Linked DNA regions of Homo sapiens: region 2 is linked to region 1. Evidence: fine-mapped expression QTL. A gene starts in region 1. The other region holds a variant in brackets. All regions are shown on one strand. Distances are from middle to middle. Region 1 holds the start of VPREB1 (V-set pre-B cell surrogate light chain 1). Region 2 overlaps LOC105372952 (a long non-coding RNA gene).

Region 1 (2,932 bases):
TTGAGCCTGGGAGTTTGAAGCTGCGGTGAGCTATGATTGCACCACTGCACTCCAGCCTGGACCACAGAGCAAGACTTTATCCCTAAAAAAAGGAAAAAAAGAACATGTTTGCCGACACCTGCCACTCTCTTGTACAAATAAGTAAATGCATTTACTTGCTCATCTAGACCAGTGGTTCACAATCAGTGTGAGTTTACCACCTGGGGACATTTGGCAATGTCTGGAGACATTTTTGTTTGTCACAACTGGGAAGGGGCATCTGGTGGGTAGAGGCCACAGATAACCACTCACCATTCAACAATCCGCAGGACAGCCCCACAACCAAGAACTGTCCAGCCCAAAACGTCGATAGGACCAAGGTGGAGAACCCACTCTAGGCCTATTACCTGGCTCCTGTTCTCCCTGGAGGCCCAGACCAGGTGCTTTCTAAGCTTGTTTGCCCTGTAACCGCTGGGCAGAATCAGATGACACCAGAGGGTCCTGTCCTGGGCATGGATGCCCCTCCAGGGTGCTTCGGTCAACCCCTTGCCTCCCATGGCCCACAAAAGTAAGGACTCAGGTGAGTGCTCACCACAGTGATCTGCCAGTCTCCCGGGGCCCCGGGCCTTTGCCCAAGGCTGGTACTACGAAGTCGCACAACAGTCAGACCAAACTCAGCAAAAAGTGACAAGCAGCTTTAATTCCCTAATGCAGTCTCCAATGGGGATTTACAGCAACACTGCAGGACCAGGAGATGCTGAGTGGCTCAGCCTCCTCGGCGCTTCGGGCGGCGACTCCACCCTCTTCCATGACAGTCTCTCCAAGGGGATGCGTGCCTCTGCTGTCTTCAGTTCAAGGGACACGTGTCCTGGCTGCAGTGGGTTCCATTTCTTCCTCCCACTCCCTCTCCCTCTCCTCCTTCTCCGAGCTGCGGGCCCCCATAGCACAGTAATACATAGCCTCGTCCTCAGGCTGCAGCTCAGAGATGCTCAAATACCCCCTGTTCCTGGCCACATCTTTGGATCCAGAGAAGCGAGGGGGGACCTGGGGGCCCTGGCTCTTGTCTGATTGTGAGAAATATCTCAGCAGGAACCTGGGAGGGTGGCCCGGCCTCTGCTGGTACCAGTAGACGCTGTACACACCGATGTCATGGTCGTTCCTCAGGGTGCAGGTGAGGCGGATTGTGGTTCCAAGGGCCGAGGACATGGCCGGCGGCTGATGCAGCACCGGCTGAGGACCACAACCTGGTGACACAGATGCATGTGGGCCGTGGGGGCAGGGCAGGATGAAGGAAGGGGCAGGAGTCTTTGGGATCTGGGGGTTCCCTCACCTGTGCAGTAGACAAACAGCATGAGCAGGACAGGAGCCCAGGACATGGTGCAGACATGCAGAGCTCTGACTCCTGTGGCCACGGTGCCTGGGGTCCCCAAGGGCTGGCCCAGCATCCTCCTCCCTGCTCTGAGAGGTGGGGCCGTGGCACACCCCGTTCCTGGCCACTACCATCCCAGACTTTCTTGGGTCTGCAACGTCGGTTACCGGAACAGCGTCGGGGCAGCATTTGTGGCTCTGATCTTGCCATATGGAAGCATTCAGGGAGGAAGCACCTGCTGGAGACTCTGGGGCCAGTGCCCTGGAGGCCTTTGGGTTAAGGTACCTCAGGGGTCGTGACCTCAACTTCCCCCTGAGGAAACCGCACCCCAGATAAATAAATTTTCTGTCTACATTTAAATGCTTGGTGAGCCAGGAAGGGAGGACACATCCTCGGGGGGTGAAAACACCTGCTTTGTACAGCAGAAGACACTGGGGGCCCAGAGCGGGTTGGGATGTTCTGCCCCTTCCATGTTGCAGCACTGCCTTCGGCCCATGCTCCTCTCCCTACTAGAACCAAGTAGAGTGACTCAGGCATGGGAAAGAAGCACCAGGGCCTGGTGCCTTCCCCACCCCTGTTCTGGCTCACCGAGCAGGTGCAGCTTGGCACTGTGATAGACTGAATTGCATCCCCCAAATCCATAGGTTGAAGCCCTAACCCCCAGTGTGCCTGTATTTGGAGATAGGGCCTTTAAGGAGTTAATGAAGGTTAGATGAGGTCATAGAGGTGGGGCCCCGGTCAGTACAACTGGTGTCCTTATAAAAAGGGGAAATTTGGGAGCCGGATGCAGTGTCTCACACCTATAATCCCAGCACTTTGGGAGGCCAAGGTGGGAGGATCACTTGAGCTCAGGAGTTCGAGTCTAGCCTGAGCAACATGGCAAAACCCCATCTCTACAAAAAAAATTTAAAAATTAGCTGGTCATGGCGGACAGGCACCTGCAGTCCCAACTACTTGGGAGGCTGAGGTGGGAAAATCACTTGAGCTTGGGAGGTTGAGTTGAGGCTGCAGCAAGCCAAGATCTCACCACTGCCCTCCAGCCTGGCCAACAGAGGGAGACCCTGCCTCAAAAAAAAAATGAGAATAAAAATAATACATTAAATGTATGTTTGCATACTACCTGCAAGATTTAAAAAAAAATTAAGGGGAAATTTGGACTTAAAGTCTCTGATCCCACATGCTCACCCTCCCTCAAAAAGCTGGAGTGTCTCCTCCCCTGGAACCTGTGCAGGCCTGTGATCAAGGCTGAAGTGTCCCTGGGTGCACGAGGTGGCACTGAGCAGCTGGGTGTGCACTGGGACTGTTTACTTGCAAACACTTTGATAGAGCAACCACCCCTGAGGCTCAGATGAGCCCCTGCTCGGTGTCAAGCTGCCCCACATCCATTCTCTGCCTGGTGAGGTGCAGGCTGCACCAGTTTCAGCCCGCAGGGTCGACTCTGGGAGCCCCACCCTTCTTCCCACTGCCTCTCTGGCCAACAGCTCCACTGCCCAGGTGAGGGCTGGGGAGGGCCTCTGCAGACACAGGATGTCTTGACCACTCTGTCCAGTAACAGCTGCAACCACATCTATGACCTGTTGCTCC
Region 2 (2,932 bases), 42 kb before region 1:
AACAAAATATTTTGATAAGAAGTTAAAGCTTTGTATATAATATGCCTTGAATTGTAAGTGCCTGTTATTAGTTGTATTACATATAGGTCATGGTTTTGTACACATAACTCCAAACCATTGATACTGTTAAAAGAATATATGAATATATGAAAGAATGTATAAACGTAAGAATGTGTCAGTATCTAATGACCTTTCCAAATTAATTTTTATTTTTAGCTCTGTTAGATTTTTCTCAGTGTAACAAATGTTTATTCCTATGTAATTAAGGGCGTATTTCCTGTACAGAATATTCATATTACCTAATTGAAAATTATATGATACAAAAATATAATACTATTTTTAGCCAGGCATGGTGGCTCATACCTGTAATCCCAACATTTTGAGAGGCCACGTTTGGAGAATCATTTGAGTCCAGGAGTTGACCAGCCTGGGCAACATAGTGAGACCTTGTCCTTATTAAATAAATAAATAAATAAATAGGTTGGGCACTGTGGCTCATATCTGTCATCCCAGCATTTTGGGTTGCCAATGCAGGAGGATTGCTTGAGCCCAGGAGTTTGAGACCAGCCTGGGCAGAATAGCAAGACTCCATCTCTACAAATAATAAAATATTAACCAGGTGTGGTGGTGTGCACCTGGGGTCCCAGCCACCTGGGAGGCTAAGGTGGGAGGTTTGCTCGAGGCTGCAGTGAACTGTGAATGCACCACTGCATTCCAGCCTAGGCCACAGAACAGGACCTTGTCTATAAATAAAGAAATAAGTAAAAATATAAATAAAAATAAGTAAAAAGAAATATAAGTAAATATAAATATAAATACATATAAATATAAAAATGCATACATGAAAAGAAACAATTTTTAAATTTAACATCACTGAGGGCATCCTATCCATTTCATTTCATGATTCCATTACATCATTTCACTTAGATGAAATGATAAGATGACTTGAGATGAGATGAAATGACGAAATGATGAGATGAGATGAGATGATGAGATGAAATTTTGAGATGAAATGGTGAGTAGAAACGATGAGATGAAATGATGAGACGAAATGACAAAATTGAAAAGAAATTGAAAGGAGATGAGATGAGATGAAATGAGATGAAATGATGAGATGATGGATGAAATGATGAGATGAAACGAGATGAAATGATGAGATGAAATGAAATAATGAAATGATATGAAATAATGAAATTGAAATGAGATGAGATGAGATGAAATAATGAGATAAAATGATGAGATGAAATGAGATGAATGATGAGATGAAATGATGAGATGAAATGAGATGAAAAATGAGATGAAATGAAATAATGAAATGAGATGAAATGAAATGAAATAATGAAAGGAAATTATGAAATGTAATGATGAAATTGAAATGAAATTGAAATGAGTTGAAATGATGAGATGTAATGATGAAATGA[AATGAT/T]GAGATGAGATGAAATGAGATGCAATAATGAGATGAAATGCGATAACGAGATGAGATGAGATGAAATCATGAGATGAAATGATGAAATGAAATGATGGATGAAATGATGAGATGAAATGTAATGAGATGAAATGACAAATGAAATAATGAAATGAGATGAAATGAAATAATGAAATGATGAGATGAGAAGAAATGATGAGATGAAATGATGAAATGATGAGATGAGATAAAATGAGATGAAATGATGAGATGAAATGATGAGATGAAATGAAATGATGAGATGAGATGAAATATGAGATGAAATGACATAATGAAATGAAATGATGAAATGGAATAATGAAATGGAAATGATGAGATGAGATGCAATGAGTTGAAATGAGATGAAATGATGAAATGATGAGATGAAACGATGAGATGTGATGAAATGATGACATGAAATGATGACATAAAATGAGATGAAATGAGATGTAATGATGAAATGAGATGAGATGAAATGAGATGAAATGATGAGATGAGATAAAATGATGATATGAAATGAGATGAGTGATGAGATGAAATGATGAGATGAGATGATGAGATGAAATGATGAGATGAACTGATGAGATGAAATGAAATGAAATAATGAAATTGAAATAAAATTGAAATGAGATGAAATGATAAGATGAGATGATGAAATAAAATGATGAAATGATGAGATGAAATGATGAGATGAGATGACATGAAATAATGAAATGAAATAATGACATGAAATTGAAATGAGATGAGAAGATATGAGATGAGATGAAATGATGAAATGATAAGATGAAAAGAGTTGATGAGATGATGAGATAAAATGATGAGATGAAAGATGAGATGAAATGATGAGATGAAAGATGAGATGAAATGATGAGATGAAATGGGATGAAATGAAATTAGACGAAATGTAATGAGATGAAATGAAATGACATAAATGAAAAAATGAAATGAAATAATGAAATGAGGTGAAATTAAATGAGATGATGAAATTAAATGATGAAATGAAATGATGAAATGGAAATGATGAGATGAAATGCCGAGATGAATGATGGATTTGAAATGATGAGATGCAATGATGAGATGAAATCATGAAATCATGAGATGAGATGAGATGTAATGATGAGAGGAAATGATGAGATGTAATGAAATCCCCCGCACTGCATCCGATGAAATGAAATAATGCAAGGAAATTGAATTGACCCTATCACCCGGAATGAGCTAAAATGAGATGAAATAAGAAATGATGTTTTGTTTTGTTGACATGCTGAGGTGAGATGAGATGAGATGAGACGAAAGATGAGATGAGATGAGACGAAACGATGAGATGAAATGAAAGGAAGAGATGAAAGGCCGAGATGAAATGATGAGATGAGGTGAGATGAAATGAGATGAAACAAGATGAAATGATGAAATGATGAGATGAGAAGAAATGAGATGAAATGAGATGAGATAAAATGATGAGATGAAATGAAGTGAAATGAAATGAAATAA

Evidence for each region. PIP is the estimated chance that this variant, and not a neighbour inherited with it, causes the effect. A credible set is the group of variants that fine-mapping cannot tell apart.
Region 2: its variant is the best candidate, but not a certain one, in a credible set for the expression of VPREB1 in whole blood (TOPMed, PIP 0.56).

What each region holds. Positions count from the first base shown.
Region 1 is chr22:22,243,237-22,246,168 of GRCh38, reverse strand. VPREB1 (V-set pre-B cell surrogate light chain 1) reads right to left here and starts at 1,383. Exons shown (of 2, transcript NM_007128.4): 1 at 1,310-1,383; 2 at 654-1,223. The coding sequence starts at 1,355. The coding sequence ends at 832. It also overlaps IGL.
Region 2 is chr22:22,285,714-22,288,645 of GRCh38, reverse strand. It overlaps LOC105372952 (a long non-coding RNA gene), which reads left to right. Exons shown (of 3, transcript XR_938055.3): 3 at 1-350. It also overlaps IGL. Among named protein-coding and RNA genes, the nearest start is that of VPREB1, 42 kb to the right of the region's middle. The variant AATGAT/T (reference allele first, on the strand shown) is at 1,422.